Linked DNA regions of Homo sapiens. The protein of the gene in region 4 interacts with the protein of the main gene of each other region in a pairwise test. Each region holds a gene or a part of one and is shown on either strand. Other genes may lie near its edges.

The links. The genes of interacting proteins can lie anywhere in the genome.
Region 1: the proteins of KALRN (region 4) and GFI1B interact in a two-hybrid assay, tested with the Homo sapiens proteins (one large-scale study listed by BioGRID and IntAct).
Region 2: the proteins of KALRN (region 4) and PCNT interact in a two-hybrid assay, tested with the Homo sapiens proteins (one large-scale study listed by BioGRID and IntAct).
Region 3: the proteins of KALRN (region 4) and DSCAM interact in a two-hybrid assay, tested with the Homo sapiens proteins (one large-scale study listed by BioGRID and IntAct).

The regions. Positions count from the first base shown.
Region 1 is NC_000009.12:132,983,967-132,988,738, forward strand, and holds part of GFI1B (zinc finger protein Gfi-1b), read left to right. Parts: intron 1-2,692; 5' UTR 2,693-2,712; coding exon 2,713-2,812; intron 2,813-3,315; coding exon 3,316-3,453; intron 3,454-4,230; coding exon 4,231-4,502; intron 4,503-4,772. UniProt on the Homo sapiens protein: Essential proto-oncogenic transcriptional regulator necessary for development and differentiation of erythroid and megakaryocytic lineages.
Region 2 is NC_000021.9:46,423,929-46,428,700, reverse strand, and holds part of PCNT (pericentrin), read right to left. Parts: intron 2,871-4,772; coding exon 2,730-2,870; intron 1,080-2,729; coding exon 906-1,079; intron 307-905; coding exon 111-306; intron 1-110. UniProt on the Homo sapiens protein: Integral component of the filamentous matrix of the centrosome involved in the initial establishment of organized microtubule arrays in both mitosis and meiosis. Plays a role, together with DISC1, in the microtubule network formation.
Region 3 is NC_000021.9:40,014,614-40,019,385, reverse strand, and holds part of DSCAM (cell adhesion molecule DSCAM isoform CHD2-42 precursor), read left to right. Parts: intron 1-4,772. UniProt on the Homo sapiens protein: Cell adhesion molecule that plays a role in neuronal self-avoidance. Promotes repulsion between specific neuronal processes of either the same cell or the same subtype of cells.
Region 4 is NC_000003.12:124,039,083-124,044,635, forward strand, and holds part of KALRN (kalirin), read left to right. Parts: intron 1-5,553. UniProt on the Homo sapiens protein: Promotes the exchange of GDP by GTP. Activates specific Rho GTPase family members, thereby inducing various signaling mechanisms that regulate neuronal shape, growth, and plasticity, through their effects on the actin cytoskeleton.

The sequences.
Region 1 (4,772 bases), on a different chromosome or scaffold from region 4:
ACTCAGCATCTGGATTAAGCATCAGAATTAAAGGTGTAATAAACAAGGCAGGCTAAGCAGCCCCCTGCCAGAAGGTTTGACCAGCTCCTCTTCTATCACAGAAGCCTTGGCGAGTACCTTTGGTTCTAGTTGATTTCCTCATAAATATTATGCGCAAAAAAGGATCATCTTTTGATATTTTGATAGGCAAACCATGACCCTCACAGGCCCCCTCAAAACAAAGTGCAAGGGGAACCCCACACCCCCAGTCCTCCTCCTGCTCACTGGGTCCCCTCCTCTCCCCCTAGGGTCTGGCCTCCCCATGGGCTTTCTTGAAGCGAAGAAGAGTTAAAAGCGGGAAGGAAGGGGGGTGTGGGGAGCCCTGGTGAGGGAGGGGGAGGAGGCAAGAGGAGGAAGACGTGTCCCTGGGAGATAAGGCCGTGGGCTGCCCCCGGCCCGAGCCTGTGTTCAGAGAGCCGAGAATCTGACCGCGGGAAGGGACCCCAGAGGCCTTCAAGGTCCTTTCTCCTAATTTTAGAGCTCAGAGAGTACAGGGCCTTGAGCGCGGCCCTGGCTTCTGGGAGGCTGCTGCAGCCCTTGGCACAGGGCTTACCCCGTCCTTTGAATGCACCTGCAGTGGGCTGGGTGCTGGGATGCGGGGGAGCACATGCTGAGCACCTCTCACACTCGCTCCTGATGGATAAAGGTCCTTTCTCGCTCCCCACCATCCCATGTGGTTGGATTGGGATCCCCGTTTAGCAGATATGAGCACTGAGGCTCAGTGATGAGCCTTACAGCAGGCAAGGGCTGGGCCTGAGCTTGGCCCCCTGTGCAGAGCCCCCAGTCCAAACTCTTGATGCCCCCAGGCTCTGGGCCAGGGGGAAGCAGGCCTGGGCATAGTCGGGTCCCTCTTCTGCCTGGCTGTGGTTCATCTCCTTGGGGAAGGGGTGAGTCCCTGGCCCTTTTCCAAGCTGCATTCTCTAATCTCCCACCTCCCACCCTGCTCCTGGGCCAAGGCCTTATCACCCAGGCCCTCACTGCTGTTCTGAAGCAGCTGTGATCCCTCTCCCGCCTTCTCCGGACCCTATCACCCCTGCAGCCTTGCATGGCGGCTGGCCCAAGGGGTGGGGGGGTGGGACTCCTCTGACGCCTCAGGCATGGGCCTGGTGTCGGCCTGGGTGCAGCGTGGGGGCAGAAAGGATAGAGGACCACCAGAAGATGCTCTCCAGAGTGCCCGGGGGAACCTCACAGGCTGAGTGCAGGGATGTGAACCATTCTGGGGGCCAGGCAGGGCTCTCAGCTCCAGAGGGCTCTGCAGGGGAAGCCAGGAGTCCTGGGGTGGTCAAGTTGGTCCAGCCCTGTCACTCCCTGACTCTGCCTGGGATGGTCCCTTGACTGATGTGGTCCTTGGTTTCTTCTCCCACTCCCTGACTGGTGGGGTTGGTAGTGATGCTGGGCTGCCCACGGAAGCTGGGGGCTGTTCGCCTCTTCTCCTGTGTCCATGAAGCCTCAGGCCTCCAGGTGCAGTGGAGTTGGGGGTCCTCTCAGGTCTTGAGTCCCCACACCCCACTCCTCAGAGAGAGAAAGCCCCTGTCTCTCTAGGGAACAGACTCTGGGCCAGGGCTGTGGACAAGGCGCAGCCGTGCTCTGGCGGCTGTGGCTTGCGGCTTGCAGGAGCACGTGGATTGGCAATGTCCCCTCGTTTGCTGCAGCTTCTCTGCCAGAGCCCCCAGTGATAGACACTGAACACCTGTGATGCACCTGTCAGCACTGCAAGCCTGGACATCCCCACTTACAGCAAAGGGGATAGGCCCAGAGAGGTTAAGTGTGTGTCCCAAATTGCACAGCAAGTGAACTGAGATTCTAACCCACGAACCACTGATTCCAAAACCTAAGCTCAGACCACCCGTTTCTATGGCCTCTGAAGGTGAATCTCACTGGTACCCAAATGTAGCTTTCTAGAATTGGGGTCCACTGTGTGTCACAGAGGGAGACCCCAGTCCCTGCCTTTCCTTTTCTGCTCCATTGCAGCCCAGGTCATGCCAATGGGAGCAGGCTTGTCTGAGCGTTTTCTAGGGGGCGATGCATTCATTTCCTGGTGAAGGAGCAGTGAGGGAAGTTAGGATTTGTAGCTGCCGTAACAAAATAGCACAAACAGGTGGCTTAAAACCAACAGAAATTTATTCTTTCATGGTTCTGGGATCTAGAAATCCAAAATCGAGGTGTCCGCAAAGTGGGTTCTTTCTGCAGACGCCAGGGGAGAGGGTTTCATGCCCCTCTCTGAGTTCTGGCGGCTGTCGGCACTGCCTGGCATTCTCTGGCTGATAGAAGCTCCGAGTTCTGGCGGCTGTCGGCACTGCCTGGCATTCTCTGGCTGATAGAAGTGTCACTCTCTGCTCTGTTGTCGGCACACGGCGTTCTCCCTGGGTGTCTGTGTCTCTGGGTCCAAATTTCCATCTTCTTATAAGGACACGAGTCATCTTGGATTGAGGGCCCATCCTAACCCGGAATGACCTCATCATAACTTGATTACATCTGCAAAAACACCCTATTGCTAATAAGGTCACATTCACAGGTTCTGGGTGGACATGAACTTTGGGGGCCACTGTTCAACCCAGTATAGCTGGTGTTTTATCTCAGGAGGAGGTTCTGAGATATGGAGGGGTATTGTTCTCTTGTCCTTCCTAACCGCTCCCATCCCTCCCCCTTGCAGGTGTGGGGTGCACACTGAAAATGCCACGCTCCTTCCTGGTGAAGAGCAAGAAGGCTCACACCTACCACCAGCCCCGTGTGCAGGAAGATGAACCGCTCTGGCCTCCTGCCCTTACCCCGGGTGAGTCAGAGCCCGGGCTGGCGCCTGCTGCACCCACGGGGGGCTCTCTGCTCTGCGTGATGAGGGTGCAGCAGCGTCCCTCCTGCAGCAGCCTCTTCTTCCAAGTCTGGAAACAGGAGTGCAGTAACTGTGGGTTGCAGATGAAAGGAGTAGACAAATGAGTGATGCCCTCATCCCTTCTGCCCTGTTAGGGAGACGAGAGTGTCAGGTTGGAGCCAGTACTTAGTTACTGGCATGTGGGGCCTCACTGGAGGCCCAGTCTAGGGCTGGAGTTGGGTTGCTCAGAAAAACAGACTGGTCCAAAGTCTTCCCCGGGGTCTCCTCCTGGCCTCTTCTTGCCGCCGCCTGCTCTGGGCAGAGCCCGGGAGTGTGAGCCGCCAGAAGCAGCGGCACGTGGCTGTCTCTCTGGGCCTCCTCCTCCTAGGAAGGGCGTGCCCTCCTTGCTCCCTCTGGGCTTCCCAGAAACCGTGGCTATTGATGCTGATGGTCCTATCTCCCCACAGTGCCCAGAGACCAGGCTCCAAGCAACAGCCCTGTCCTTAGCACTCTATTCCCAAACCAGTGCCTGGACTGGACCAACCTCAAACGAGAGCCGGAGCTGGAGCAGGACCAGAACTTGGCCAGGATGGCCCCGGCACCAGGTACCCCGCTGTGACCCACTGTCATTCCCCAGGGAGTGCCAAGGGGAGGAAGGATGAAGGGACTCTTGCAGCAGGGCCCCTTGGGGCCCTGGAGTCAGGAAGGACCCACGAAGTCACTGGATGCAGCCCGGGCTCTGTGGCTTCTGCTTGGGCCTCTCAGACAGGGAGCTAATTCCCGGATGTGGGCTAGGTGGGAGAAGAGGCCAGAAGCAGCAGCTGGGCCGGTCCGTGCAGGGAGTGAGGTGGGCACTGTGGAGTGAGGCTGGGGGTGTCTCTGGGCTGGAAAAGCTGAGGAGCCACAGTGAGGACCCAGACATTCCTGGCAGTAAGTATCTGGGTTGACACCCTGAAACCCTCCACATGAGGTGATGAAGGTAGTGGTGTGTGGTAGAGGGTGGTGGGAAGGGGGTGCCCTGTGTTTATTTTATTTCATTTTATTTTTTGAGACAGTGTCTCACTCTGTTGCCCAGGCTGGAGTGCAGTGGCACGATCTCAACTCACTGCAACCTCTGCCTCCCAGGTTCAAGCAATTCTCCTGCCTCAGCCTCCCTAGTAGCTGGGATTATAGGCGTGAGCCACCACGCCTGGCTAATTTTTGTATTTTTTGGTAGAGACAGAGTTTCACCACGTTGGTCCGCCTGGTCTTGAACTCCCGACCTCAAGTGACCCACTTGCCTCAGCCTCCCAAAGTGCTGGAATTGCAGGCATGAGCCACGCCACTGTGCCCAACCCCCTGTGTTTAAATGAGTAACCAGGCCTGTGTCGTTATCTCCACAGAGGGCCCCATTGTGCTGTCCCGACCCCAGGATGGGGACTCTCCACTGTCCGACTCACCCCCATTCTACAAGCCTAGCTTCTCCTGGGACACCTTGGCCACAACCTATGGCCACAGCTACCGGCAGGCCCCCTCCACCATGCAGTCAGCCTTCCTGGAGCACTCCGTCAGCCTGTACGGCAGTCCTCTTGTGCCCAGCACTGAGCCCGCCTTGGACTTCAGCCTCCGCTACTCCCCAGGCATGGATGCGTACCACTGTGTGAAGTGCAACAAGGTGGGCAGCGGGGGGTGTGGTGGGCACCTGGGCCCTCCTCTCCGCACTCCCTCTCAACTCACTGGCAGCTCTGGGCGTTCTCTGTGCTGTGAATGTTGGGGCTCTGGTGGGATTAAGGATTCAAAACGTTCATCCTCATCACCATTCATTGAGCTCTGACCACGTGCCTGGCCCTGTGCTAAGCAATTGACAGGCATGAGTGCCAGAGTCAGATGAAAGGTTAAGGTTCAGAGAGGTTAAGTCACTTTTCCAGGATCAGACAGCAAGTAG
Region 2 (4,772 bases), on a different chromosome or scaffold from region 4:
TGACTAGATGATGCCCTGTCACCACCCTCTGCTCCCAAGGCCACACAGGTGAGTGTCGGGCGGGCAGGTGCAGAGGCCGGGCCCCAGGCAGTGTAGACAGTGACACCCACCCTGCCTGCGCAGCTGGTGCTCCTGCTGGCTCCCGCGCGCCTCTGCGCTTGTCAGCGCCGTGCGCAAGTGCTGCAGCTTCTCCTGGTTCTGCAGGTGCGTCATGCGCAGCTGGGCACGCAGCGCCTGGATCTCGGACAGCAGGCTGCTCCGGTCCGGCAAGCGAAGATGCTCCAGGGACTTTTCCTGCAGGTCTCCCTGGGGGCACAATGGGACAAGCAGCCTGAGCATTGGGCAGCCACCCCATGCCCCGGCCTTCCCTGCTGCCCGCCCTCAAAACCAGCTCCGCCGGGACAAGCCTGCTGAGTCTGGGATGGGTGCACAGTATCTGCTGGGCCTCAGCTCTGGGGCCTGCAGGCGTCAGGGCTGGGCTGCACTACCCTGCGTGAGGCCTGCAAGCCAGTTACTCTCAACACTAGGTTTCCTCGTGTATGCTGGCAGGAACAGGATTTCCAGTGTCCCCACGGCACCAACGCCACCCAGCCCTGCACACAGAGCACCTCTCAACCTAGGAGGGGCTACTTGGAATGGAGAACGTTTCTTTAGCCACCTATCTCAGAAAAGAGTGAGGCCTGAGGGTGCATCTCGAGCACACCTGTCCTGTTACAGCTGCAGGTGGAAAAGTGCAGCATCCTGCATGGACTGAGCGTCAACACCTGGGTAAGTGACAGCCACATTCCAGCGGTCGAGAGAAACACACAAACCGAAATTCACACACAAAACAGTCTGTGTCACCCTCTCTGCCAGGGCTGGACCCCTGGGGCAAACTGAGGCCTGGTGGCAGAGCTGACACTCACCTGCTCACGGATGATCTTCTCCAGCCTTTCGAGCAGGGAGCTGTGACCCCCCAGATCTGAGCCACTGAGTCGGGGCTGCAGCTCAACCCCCTGCATCTCCTGCTCTTTTTCAAAGGCCTCTTGCACAACCTGCAGAAGGTCCCCTCTCCAATCGGGGCACGCGGTGGGCACTTCCTAAAGGAAGAAGGAAGAAACGTGGCGTCCTCACAAATGCACCTGCATCCTTGTGCCCTAAAGTTCGCAGTGTGACTGCGTTTGGAGATGGGGCCTGCGGGAGGTGATTCAGGGTAAATGAGGCCTCTTAAGAAGAGGAAGAGACACCAGAGCTCACTCGCTGTCTCCATCATATGAGGACACAGCACGGAGACGCTGTCCGCAAACCAGGAAGGGCGCCTACACCAGAATCCAACCCTGTGGGCACCCTGATGCCACAACAGGTGAAATCAATGTCTGCTGTTTAAGCCCCCTGGTCTGGGGTGTTCTGTTACGGCAGCTGAGCAGACTGACAGCCGTTCAAACAGAAATGACCCTGACAGAAGAGAAGACACACACTGCCCAGGGCCATTCAAGGCACGAGAAGCAAAGGCTGCCATCATGAGCACAGAAGAGACTGAAAAAGACGATAAAGTAAGGTCAGGAAAATGTCAGCAAAGCTCCTTCCCTCTTTTCCTGCTGCTGTGCCTTCAAGGCCCAGGGCCTGGAGGGGACCTAAGGCTGCAAGGGGCTACCCGCTGGTCCCCAGGGGCAGCGTGCAGCACCAATGAGCCTCCTGAATGCCAGCCAGGCTGCCGCTCGCACACAACCAGGGCCTGCTGGAGGGGCGAGCGGAGGCGGGTGGGGCTGACCCTCCCACCGGCTCTCCATGGCACCAGCACACCCTGTGCGTTCCAGGCACAGGGAGAAAGCCCTTCCCTCCCTCACAAAGCTTTGATCCCAGTCAGAGGCAGGCACAGGGGCAGGACAGGGTGGGCACGGAGATGGGAGGGAGCGTGATGGGAGTTGGCACCCACTCCACAACCTCCACAAGCCCTGGTGATGGAAGCAGACAGGCAGGGAGATGGGGAGGACTTGGGGAAAAGTGGGGTGCGGGGTCGACAGCACAGAGGTGAGGCCCTGAGGTCCAGTTGCTGGGGCTTGGGGTGTGGAGGGGGAGGTAGGAGAGACCCAAGGGGAGGAATGAGGCCGGAGGGCAAGTCACCCGAGTGGCAGGAGGAGAGGCCCTGGGGGACAAGTGCTGGAATGGGCCGAGTCCGCAGGGCCACATGGCCAGGAGGGACCACTCTCAGCCTCCCCGCAGGCTCACACAGGGCACAGGCCTGAAAGCCCTGAGCCCTTCTGCCCCCCACACACCTCCACGTCCCGCAGGGAACCTGCCCCGAGAGCCTGCGCTGGCTGTGGGAGATGGGAAGGCCTCCCCAGGGTTCTTGGACCTCAGTCTTTTTGGCCGTGCTAAAAAAAATCCTAGGCCAGGCACGGTGGCTCATGCCTGTAATCCCAGCACTTTGGGAGGCTGAGGCGGGTGGATCACAAGGTCTGGAGTTCAAGACCAGCCTAGCTAAGATGGTGAAAGCCCGTCTCTACTAAAAATACAAAAATTAGCTGGGCATGGTGGCATGCACCTGTAATCCCAGCTACTCGGGAGGCTGAGGCAGAGAACTGCTTGACCCGGGGTGGTGGAGGTTGCAGTGAGCCGAGTCTCAAAAAAAAAAAAAAAAAAAAAAAAAAAGAAAGAAATCCTAGTGTCCACGTGGCCCTAAGGACGCGGCCATTACCACAAGCTCCTTAAATCCTTTGGAAAAGAAGTGTGTGAAGGGCAAAATAAACCTGCGTCTTTCCCCCATGGAGCGAGATGTCCTGTATCTCGTCTTCCTTCCGGGGTGGGTGTGGCTCGCCGCTTGGGGGTGCAAGGCCTTCTGACAGCGCCAGGATCTGGTGGCTCTCGTCACGCACCATCTGCAGTAAAGCCTGTGGCGGGAAAGCGCGTCAGAAGGGAGTTGCCTGCCACCCCACACAGCCACGCTCTACACCACCTGCGGCCCCGAGCTGCCGCCAGGACTCTGTGAAGGGCGGGCAGCTGTGGAGAGGGAGGGCACCGCCTCGGCTTCGTACAGGCGGCACCCACTTCTCAAGCTACAAGGTTTTCAAGCCCACCTCTCCCGACCTTCAGAGAGACAACACGGAAGCCAGGCTTGGAGTGAATTTCTCTATAAGCCACTCCAAAGATGGCCCCGCCACTTCCTCCACTCCACCTGCTCCCTGAGGGGGACACCGTCCCCCGCCTAAGCCTGGACAAAGCTCAGGGCAGGGCTTTAGGCCAATGTCCACAGCGAGATCACAAACATATCACACACTCCCTGCCCACCTGGGACGCTACGAGAAGGCCACACGATGGCCACCCAGGAGGCCTCTGTGCGTGGTCCGGCTGAGGCCAGTGCCGACCACCAGCGTGGGGTGAAGCTGCCTGTGCTGGGCACGGGGAGCAGAGAAAACCATCCCCAGCAGGCCCTGCCCACAGGTCTGTGAACACGAGGCGGCTGCTTTATCCCACCGATTACGCAGCAGCTGGTGTCCGGACACACACTTGACTGTCTCGCCAGAGAGGCTGAGGGGTAAGCAGACGGCCCTATGGAGAAGCTGGTGTCACGACCAGCCTAGAGCCCAGAGCCCAGAGGCTCAGCGCGGTCACCACCACATGAGCACACACCCAAGCACAGGACACGTCTGCATAAAAACCTGAAGAGAAAAATAATCTAATAAAGTCCAAAAAGAGGGAAATGCAAAATGAGGCAATGATGAAGCCTACGACGGGTGTGACTGACTGAAAATAGGCTTTCCTGTAATTTTAACGATATGCCAAAAAAGGTCAAATATTAACACTAAAGTGTGAAACCAAATTGCACACTATGTTCATCTCTAACAACTGAAAACACTTTTACTTTAAACATAACGTATGTGGCACAGGATGGATGCAAACTGAGGTCTGCGGCAGAGCAGGGTGGGGTTGAGGGGAGCGGGGTGGTGCGGGGAGGAGCGGAGACGGGGGGAGCAAGGCCGTGGCTGGGGGAGCAGGGTTGGGGGGGGCGCAGTGGGAGCAGGGCCGGGGGAGCAGGGCGGCGGGCAGGCCCTGAAGCTGCTTGGCCCCTCTCTTCCAGCTGCAGAGGACAGGCCATTTCCTTCTTTTTAATATGCTTTTCTAGATTCTGTATAGAGGAGAAAATGCATTTTAAAAAACATCTCTTACAAAGAAGAGATGCAGAGGCCCTGGGCCACAGCTTCCCGCCAGGTGACACGGGGCCCTTGCAGGTGGGTTCCCGTGAGGCCGGGAAGTGGGGCAGAGACCAGTGGGTACCTTAGAACATGGCCTGTGAGGCAGCCTGGGGGGTCCCACAGACACAATCACTAGGGCTGAGAAGGTTCTGCCATCTCCACACTCAGGACCAGGCGGCTCTGCCTGTCAGCAGTGGTGGTGGTGGCAGCGGCGGAGGCAGGGGAGTCCTCATTTCCTGAGCTCCAGCACCTACCCTGCCCACTTATGGCTCAATTCCAGGCACGGCCAGAGGTGGCCAAGAGTGGCCGGGGCCCCACCCGTGCTCAGGACCTCTCAGCCTCCTCAGCATAGGGACCACAGGGGCTATTAGAGCGTCGACCACACTCTTGGCGTCTGTGGCTGCATCTGAGCAGTGGGTGTCCCCCACGCGCCTGGAGCCACCTCCAAGTGGGGCAAGCACCCAGCTCCACTCAGTTCCCCACTGCGGCGTCAGTGTGGGCACAACCCCAGGGCTCCACACTCTAAAACACAGGCCAGAAATTAAGACAATAAAGGAAAACCCTGAGTTTGAAACAGTCTGAGACATCCATGAAAAAAAC
Region 3 (4,772 bases), on a different chromosome or scaffold from region 4:
TCAGATAAATGCAGGCAATGTTATCCTGGCCTCTATTCCTCATCACCACAATTAAAGCCAAGGGCTGGTTTCTCCCATGTGACACAGGCAGATGGCAGGCAGGGCACTGGGGAATGCTGTGCCAATGTCCCCATGGTCACCACAGTCTCACACATCATGTGTCTCTTTCTGGATCAATAACTGCATGAGTTGTCTTGCTATGTGTAGGCATCTTAAGCATATAGGAGGACAATTAGAGAATCCAGGTCCTCAGAGGCTTTGTTGATGAGCACATGGGCTGGGGTTTTAAAGAACATAAGTGCCTGTAATAACAGAGCTTACCGCTGACTACTCTGGTGCTCTCTTCTCTGTAAGTGCATTAATTATTGAGAGAACTCATTTGCAGCACGCACACAGTTGAAAGGGCTACTTTGGACGCTAATCAGAAAATACACATTGTTGAAGGGAGCTAATTAGAGAATCACACAACTTTGTAGAGCTTTGCCTGAAAAACTGGATCAATCAGAGATATTGGATATTCAGAGATACTTGTCAGACCTGCAATAAACAAATACATGTAGGCATTGCATGTAAAGATGTAACACTGAGCTGTTTCCATTAGGAAGGATTTTTATTTCTCATCTGTCCATTTCAGTGACTGGAGCCCTCTTGATAACTACATCTGAAGTGGGAGCCCCTGCAGGCAGGATGCAGATATTATGAGTCCTATCTTTTGATTTCAAACACGTTTCTTCCTTCCAATCTAAGACCTGCGCATTCTGCAGTCCAGCCGGGACCACAATGCTATTACTTTGTGGAGGTTTAATAAGCCCTGTGCATTCAATGGGGAGTCACTAAAATAGAGATTTATCCCCAAATCTGTTGCAACACATTACAAATATGTCAAGCGTTCGTGATTGAGTCGGGTCTCAGAAAGAGCATGAGGCATTCTTGACCTATATATTTAAAGAACCCTGGAGGTAAATGTCTGTCCCATTTCCTCAAATATACAAACAACATGATAAAAATAATATTGAATAAAAATAATTTAAAATTTAAAATAAATAAATAATAAAATTAACAATTTGTTTATCAGATTCTTAGGAATAAAGACATAATCACTTTCAGGAGATTGAATGTATAAAACTACAAATCGCAAGACTGGTCAATTAAGGTGTATTGATTCACATACAAAAGGATGTTCACATTACAAAAGAATTATTCAATTTTTTCTTAATGACAGCTCTGTTAATGCTTTCATCACTTTTTTTGCAAATAATCCCTGGTTAGAGAAGACTGAAGAATAACTACCATAAACGAACATTAGTAATTTTCAATGCCATCAAGTTTCATAAAGTTTTAAAAACTCAAATTCTTTCAGGAACAAAGCTATTCTATATGGCAAGAGATTCCTGAACCCTCCACATTAGTGTCTATAATGGGTAGGCCTCATGCCATTATATTTTTCTAAGCCAAAGTTCAGATGCATCAAGTTACCAAAACCCTTTTTACAAGAATGCCAAATTATGTAATTCCTTCCTATAAGAATGTTATGGGCCAGGTGCGGTGGCTCACGCCTGTAATCCCAACACTTTGGGAGGCTGAGGCGGGTGGATCACCCGAGGTCAGGAATATGAGACCAGCCTGACCAACATGGAGAAACCCTGTCTCTACTAAAAATACAAAAATTAGCCAGGCGTGGTGGTGCATGCCTGTAATCCCAGCTACTCAGGAGGCTGAGGGGGGAGAATCGCTTGAACCGGGAGGTGGAGGTTGTGGCGAACCGAGTTGCACTCCAGCCTGGGCGACAAGAGCAAAACTCCATCTCAAAAAAAAAAAAAATGTTATGGCCCATTTATTGTCTAGGTATTTATTACTGAGCTTCCCTTGGATCCAGTTGACAGTAGGAAGCCAACGTTGAATTAGAATGCCTTTAATTTCAGTGAGCCCAGTCCAGTGTCGCTGGGGTCATTTAGTGAATTACATGCTGCCATTCCCAGTGAAATCATATAACTACTCATCATCACTTAGTAGAATAAAGATATCCTGAAAAAGCTAAATGGAGTTTTGAATCATAAATCCCAAGTGGTGCAACAATGTAATAACACAATGACAAAGAAATCATTTGCTGCATTTCCCAAAAATAAGGTCATTGCTCCTGTTGTTCGCGGAAAAAAATTTTCAAGACGGGTAATAACATTTTGAAAATTTGTATGCTCATTTAAATTGTATAAAATGCATTTTTAGGGCTTGATTTGGCCATATTTATTTTTAGTTCTCTTATACTTTTTTTTTTTTTTTTTGAGATGGAGTTTCATCCTTGTTGCCCAGGATAGAGTGCAATCGTGCAGCAACCTCCAATGCGCAGGTTCAAAAGATTCTCCTGCCTCAGCCTCCTGAGTAGCTGGGATTACAGGCGTGTACCACCACGTCCAGCTGATTTTTCTATTTTCAGTAGAGACGGGGTTTCCCCATTTTGGCCTGGCTGGTCTCGAACACCTGACCTCAGGTGATCCATTGCCTAGGCCTCCCAAAGTGGGCGGGGATTACAGGCCAGTTCTCTTATACTCTTGAATAGTCCTTTCCTTCTGTTATGCTGGTTGTTCTTTTTCTGTGGGTAAACTTGAAGGTGTTTCCTAAGGTTCAGGCTTTAAACACTGTCTAAACACATATCACTTTCATTGCCCCGCTAGCAGAGCAGCTGGCTAATGGCAGCCCTCACTTGGCTCAGGTGGTCTCAGATCCCCTCAGCCTGCACCTTCGGGGCCTATGGGTCCAAAGGGGCTGGATGAGGAAGGCTCAATTAATTATTGTTAGCATACAGTAACATAAGGAAAGCAGGGGATATTTTGAAGCAAAAGAAACAAGAATGTTCAGTTACTTTAGACTCAGAAAACGAGCAGTGAGTCATCCTAGAGCTACGTTTCTATGATAAAAATACCTACTAGATATCTTGTCTTGAATGTCCCCAGCTGCATCAAACTCAGCAGGTCTGAAACTAAACCCTTCATCTTTTGTCATCAAAGTACGATCTTTCCCCTATACACCCTTTCACAGTTAGTGATTTCACTGTCCACACAGTTTCCTGAGCTTAGAGCCTGGGAAGGAGTCACCCCTAACCCCTTCTCCTCTGTCACCACTCCCACTTGTCATTGACTCTGAAGCCACCTTCCTTGGACCCCCTTCATATCTCACAATTTAATTCCCTCTCTCACATCCCACAGCTGCTCCTGAGCTCAGACCATCATCATATCTCTCTCCCTGCACATCCTTTACCCTGGGCCCTCGCTCCAGGACCACACACCACCAGCCCATTCTCTAGACAGAGTTTTGCACCTGGTATGTCACGAGTTACAGGTGTGCCAAGATGGTGAGTCCTTCAGACCTCAAGGTGGCCAGAAACAGCTCCCTGGGTTCATCCCAGTGTACTGCACAAATACCCCTTGTCTGCCTGTTCCTCAAAAAGTGGGAAGCACTGGGCTGGATAAGGCACACTGTCTGTACCAAAACAGCAGAAACTCAGACCCAGCGTCAGTCCAGCTCAAGTCAGGCAGTGTTGGTTGCAAAGTGGACCTGGTGGCTGGGCCCTAATTGTGCTCATGCTTTGCAAGGAGGTGATGGGATATATTAAAGCCTTGAAACAGGGCCCTGAAGATGGGAATGAGAAGGAGTCAAGGCCAGGTGGCTCATGTCTGTAATCCCAGTGCTTTGAGAAGCTGAGGCAGGAGCATCACTTGAGTTCAAGAGTTTGAGACCAGCCTGGGAAACCAAGCAAGACCCTGTGTCTCCAGAATATTTTAAGAATAATAATTAGCCAGGCATGGTGGTATGTAACTGTAGCCCTAGCTACTCTGGAGGCTGAGGTGGAAGGTTTGCTTGAGCCCAGGAGTTTGAGGCTACAGTGAGCCATGAATGCACCATTGCACTCTAGCCTGGGCAACAGAGCAAGACTCTATCTCTTCTTGTTTAAAAAAGAAAAAAAAAAAAAAGAGTCAAGAGATATTTTGCCGGTAGAATTAACCTGGAGAGAAAGGTGTCAGTGAAACCTCTGAGGTTTCAAGGATGGAAGGATGGTGATAATGTTACACAAGATGGAGCACACAGGAGAGAAGCAGTATTTGGGATTGGGAGGGGATGGGGTTGGCCTTCATTAACTGAATTGGTAGACTGTGGCCTTCAGAATTCCAGATGGACACTCGTGTGGAAATGCCTAGCAAAGCACCTAAAATTCACATCTAGGGCTCAGGAGAAAGAGCAAAATGGAAAAGATAGATGGGAATGTTATTTATAAAGCAATGAGGAAAGCAGCCAAGCCTTCCGAGAGAGGCCTGAGAGCAGGCCACTGAACACTCCGTATTTAGAGGAAAGACAGAGAAAAGGATCCAGTCAAGGAAAGTGAGAAAGGGTGGCCAGAAATGTAGGCAGAGATCTGGAAGACCACAGTGCCCTGGCAGCTGAAAGGGCCAACAACAAAAATATCAACGGCATCAAATGCTATAGTAATGCAGGTAGGAAGAGGACGAAGAGGAAACCAGAGAATTTGGCAATGAGAGGTCAGGGTGACCTTTCAGTAGCTGATGGTGAAAGAAGCTGTGTCAGTTCAGGTTTTTGAGAAGCGCCTAGCAAGACAGATTAGACACACAAGGAATTTATTGGGGAAATTCTTGTGAAGAAGGAAGCAAAAGGAAGCAGGAGGTGGCAAGGAGAGTCTGGAGACCATAACAGAGGTCCGACACCTGTGAGAGGAGAAGGCGAAGGAGGGATTGGTTGGAGGCACGTCAGGCTGCGGTGCA
Region 4 (5,553 bases):
CACTGCTTGGTGCTTGAACCTTCAGTAACCCCCTAGTGCCTTCAGGGTCAAGTGTCGGCCTCACAGCTCAACTCCAGCCAGGCTGCTCTCCACACACTGCCCAAGGGCTCCTGCATTCACAGTCTCCTTGGATCAACCACCCCGGCACCCTCCAAATCCAACACAGTCTTTAAGACTTGATCCCTGCCTTCTTCTGGGAGCTTTCACAGCTCACGATGACAGCCCTTTGAATTACTCACTGTCTGTACTCATTTTCTCACTTCATTAGTATTGTATTGTTATTTAGCCTTTCCATACATGAAGGCTTGTCTCCCCCATTGAAGTTATTTGTTCTTTGGAGGTAAGAAAAAGGATCTTTTTAAAAGCTTGTGATTAATCAAAAAACACCCCCTCACAATATAAATCAAACATGGCAAAATATAAGCAGCTATTGAATCTAAGTGATGGTTTGTTTATATTCACTGTATGATTTCTTAAACTTTTTTCTTAAATAATAACCCCATCACATCTAGGCAGGGAACCTTAAACTATTGTCATGTCCAGATCATATAGAAGGGAGATTTGGGAATAACAATCTATGTTGGTATGCAATTCCTTGAGTAAATGTCACCGCCCAGTCTGTACATTGCCAGGTACCTAAAAAGGGAGGAGTCTCTTACTTCCTGAGCTTTCTTTTGCAGCAAAGGAAAACATCTCTTTTTTTTTTTAAGTTATGCTTGATGCTCCAGAGTGTAAACACGATGCTTAATTTAATGCTTGTTGTCCCTTCTTGATCTCCTCCACTTTCACCCATTATGAACTGGGCTTTTGGTCACATCATTTTTCAGGAGCCTTTGGGGGAGTATTGGGAAGACTTTGTGGTTCTGGAGAGGGAATGTTGTTAATATTTCTAATGCTATATTTTTATAGGCTATTTCTACTATTAATATATTTTAGTACATATCAGTGACATCCAGGTCCACCTCTGTAAGATTTGGTAAGCTTTGCTTCATCCTTGTGCCACAAATCACCAATAACTTTATTACTGGTACATACTGTCCAGTCGTATTTGATAATCCCTTGAGGGATGAAAGGAGGTTTTAGAATAAACTGAAGCTACAGAAAGAAATTAGCTGAGAAGTAAGAAAATCTTCCTGACTATAAATAAAATCAATAAAACACTATAAGGGGTGAACTAGAGGTTCTTCTTAGATGTTGGAAATGAACACTTTTTACTTTTCAAAGTTTTCTCTGGTTCTGGTATTTGATAGTTTACTGCTGGAGGTGGTCAGTATGGTATAGCCCAGTGGTTCTCAACAAGGGCAATTCTCCCCTCCCACCCCCCATCATAGAACATTTAGCAATGCCTGGAGACATTTTTTTGGTGTCATAACTTAGGGAGGGTTTGCTACTGGCATCTAGTGGGTAGAGGTCAAGGGTGCTGCTAAGCATCTTACAATGCACAGGACAACAAATAATTATCCAGCTCCAAAATGTCAGTAATGCTGAGATGGAGAAACGCTGGTATAGCCAGAGGATGACAGGCTTTGGATGGAATAGGTTCAGCACTAACTAGGGATAGGATCTTGCATTAATTATTTAATATCTCTCATCCTCATCTTCTGCAAAATGGGACTGATAAAGCTTGTTTCACAGGTTGAGAGTATTAAGTAGGAAAAAACATGTATGGAGCATCTAGTGGTCTCTGACACACTAGAAGCACAAGAAATCCTAGTTATCCCTGTTGTTCCTGCTGTTTTAATTATTAATTGAATGTGATGGACAGAGGCTGAAGGTCTCTTGAAGGCATGCTAGGCAGGACTTTTGACATGGGATGCAAGAGGGTGCCAGAGAGGCAACATGATGCAGTGCAGGGATCCTGTGTGTGGCATCAGAAGGCTAGGTTTTGGGCCTTGGCTCTCTTTCATTCATTCATTTAATCATTTGTTTGAAAAATATTTATCAAGTGTTTACTATAGTCATGTACCACGCATGCTATGGGAGTATATAAAGCCATTAAAAAAAGAATGTAGAACAGGAATGGAAATGGAAATAAATATACCCCCTCTGGGAGCACTTGGATATAAGGGGTTAAAAGGGGAGGGAAAAGTCTATGAAGGAGGCTGAGAAGGTCAGACAATAGAGCAGGAGGTAAACACTCCATTTTGCTCTCTACTTACATGAATAACTTGGACAAATGACTTTAACATCTGTGTAAGATGAGGATAATAGCCCCCCGCCCCAACCCTTCCCTTATAGAGCTGCTGAGAGACTCAAATAAGATACTGTATCTGAAAAGTTGTACAATACTATCCGAATATATGTAGATCTTTCCAAATTGAACATTCTATTACTCTAAGTGCCTCTTCTGACAAGTATTATCTGATTTAATCTGATTTCCATGGGACCTTTCCAGTCCAGGAAGAGATGCAGTTCTTCTCATTTTGGTTTCCCAAGGGGACTGGATGGGGCACCCTTTTACAGCAGGTCAGGGGACCCCTTTTTTCTCCTCCTCTGCATAAGTAGAAGAATGGCAGTCCCTGTCTGGGTCATGGGGCACGTGGCTCGATCCATGTGGAGAAGGTCCTTGCTTCTTACTTCTGCTGAATCTCAGGTGTGCACAGAGAATCAGGTCCTTCCTGCCTTTTCTCTGGATGCAGAGGAAAGTTCAGAGTCCTCCTGCCACTCCTTTGTGTATGAATGACTGGCAGCGAAAATAACTAGGAAATGACTGACAGCCACAGAGCTGTCGGATCAATAGAGCTGCTTGAAATTGTGTCTGCCTAGGAGCGAGGGAACAGAAAGAATCAAATGGGTGGACAGAGGAATTAATTCAGGGAGGTAAAGAAGAAACTGTAGGAGAATTAGCTTTGTCTCCTCCCCATCTGCCCTATGACATTATTAGAAGGGAGCTGGACACTAGCTAGGGAACATGGAAGCAACAGATAAACAAATTTAAGAGTGAAAAGTGGCAGACGCTTTGTACACTTAAGGGAGTGGCTACTTCTCCTTGATCTGGGACATAGGATGGGTATGGTTTGGACAGGGAAGACAGAAAGTGTTGTGATCCCAGGTTAAAACAGCATTGAAAGGAGGTGTGAATATTCATAGCATATTTAGGGGCAGTAAATGGTCCAGTTTATGTGACTCAGTGGCTGGTGGAGGATCAATGGGAGATGAGACTCAGGAGGTGGCAACCAGGTTGATTAGTTGATTCCTTTATCAAATATTTACTAGGCTCCTACATCATGAAGGCATTGAATGGAAGGCCAATGAATTTGGTCTTTCAGCAGTTGGCTTTGGGAAGCCACTAAAAATGACATGATCAGAAAGATAAATCTGGCAGCCCTGTGGAGGGTCCATTGGAGTAGGGGAGGGACTGTTGGTTGGGGATGGGTTAGAAGATCACTGTGATAGGCTAGGAGAGTCTGAACTTGAGAAGCAGCAGCAGAAATGGAGAGGAGGGGATGGATATGAGTTACTTTGGGAGGTGGAGTCTATAGGGCCTGGCATCTTGGATGTTGATGTGTCAAGAAAGAGATAGGAACCCAAGATTACTCCAAAGTTTAGAGTTTGAGTGACTGAGAGAACAGACATACCCTTAATGAAAGTCAGGAACTGCTAAGAGGAGGAGCAGCTGTGGGGAGGCAGGGGAAGAGGGGGGATTTGGAGAATTTGCTTTGGGACATGTTGCATTTCAGGTGTCAGTGAAATAGCTAAGGGACGTGTGGATTCAGTAGGTGGATAATGAAGGGAGTCTGGAGCTTTGGAAGGAGGCCAGATCTGGAAATATAGATTTGGGAGCTATCTGAAAGAAGTTGTGGCTGGAGCTATCAAAATAGATGATATAATAAATGAAAAGCATACACAGAATTAAGGGCAGAGTGCCAAAGACAGAATTGTATATACAGGGGTATCTACAGTTGGGCTGTAGGAGAACAGATGCAGAAGGGCTGGAGGAGAACCAGGAGAGAGCAATACTTGGGAAACACAGGTGATCAACAGGGTTTAATGCTGCAGAGAAGTTGAGGGAGATGGGAACTGAGCAAATACCATTGGTTCTGGAGACTAGGAATCATTGGTAATCTTTGAAATAACAGTTTCAATTGTGTATGGGAGGTGGAATTCAAATTCCAAGGGGAATGAGGAGTGAGCGCATGGGGAGGAAGTGGTGGGAGTGCATATAGATGGCTCTTTGGAAAGGTTTGACTGTGAAGGGAAGATTAAAAATAGCAAGGTAGTTGGAGATGGGGAGCAGAGTTGAGGGGAGGTTTTTTTTAGGAGGGAAGATATGTGAATACCTAGGGATAGGGTAGAGGGAGAAGGCAGGCATGAGGAAGAGACTTAATATTTAGAAAAGACAGAAGTAATAGATTGAGGAAGGTCCTGGATGAGCCTGGAGGGGTGGATCTCAAGTTCAGCTTTGGGCCAGAGGAGGATGCTTCTTTCTTGGACTCTGGAGGGAAGGCAGACCTCAGTGAAGTAGCTGGCTGGGAAGGACCAATGGGCACAATGTTCCAGATTGACAGCTCCAGGAGAGAGAGCATCATCTGGCTGGAAGACTCAGAGACTAGTGGTGCCATGCTTGGGGAGGGTAGTACAAGCTGAGGCAGCTGTGAAATGGGTGGGCTGAGCTGTTGTGGCCCTAGAAGGCTCTTGGGCAGAGAAGCTAAGAAGCGAGGCTGGGAGATCTAAAGTTAGCAATCCGTTTAAAAGTGCTGGTGGCTTTCTTTTGCAAGCCGAGGTGGGACTGCTCTAGGCTGTAGTGGGGTCTGCAGAATTGCCTCCTACAGAGTATGAGTCAGAAAGGCAAGCGGGGAAAGAAGTAAGTGAGGAGAGGAGAGAGGGAGGGAAACTCAGGCAAGATGGTATCTGGGCAGCCTTCTGAGGAGGGGTCAATGTCTGGCCATCAGGGTACTGTATCAGTGATGGGATTTGCTCATGAATTTCCAGTTTCCGTAGTGTCTCTAGAAGTCCTAGAAGAAAGGGGAAGCAGGCTAGGGCTCATGAATGAGCCCCTTGCTCATTCTTCTCCATGAAGTTGAATCCTTCACACAAAAGAGAAGATGCCATACTCTCTTTCTTGGACCCAAACACTCCTTCCACCCCTTGTTTCAGGGGCTGACCCAAGATGAAAAGCCCCATTTCATCAAAGGCTCCTCAGTGGTCTCACACGACCCTCCAGAGGGCTGGGGAGTAGGAATCTGGCTGTTGCTGCCACCAAAGGGTGGATTGTGGGGCACCAGGCTTATCTACCCTAGAACACAAGAAGGTGGGAGTTTCCTAAAGTGTAGACCAGTTCCAGAATCATAGAATCTTAGAACAGGAACTTACCAGCTTTGTGACTTTGTGCAAGTTATAACCACTCCAAGCTTTAGTTTATAAATCTGTAAAATGGGTAAAAAATCCTTGCCTTTCAGTGGGCACCTGTAATCCCAGCTACTCAAGAGGCTGAGGCAGAAGAATCACTTGAACCCAGGAGGTGGATGTTGCAGTGAGCCAAGGTCGCACCACCACATTCCAGGCTGGGCAACAGAGTGAGACTCTGTCTCCAAAAAAAAAAAAAAAAAAAAT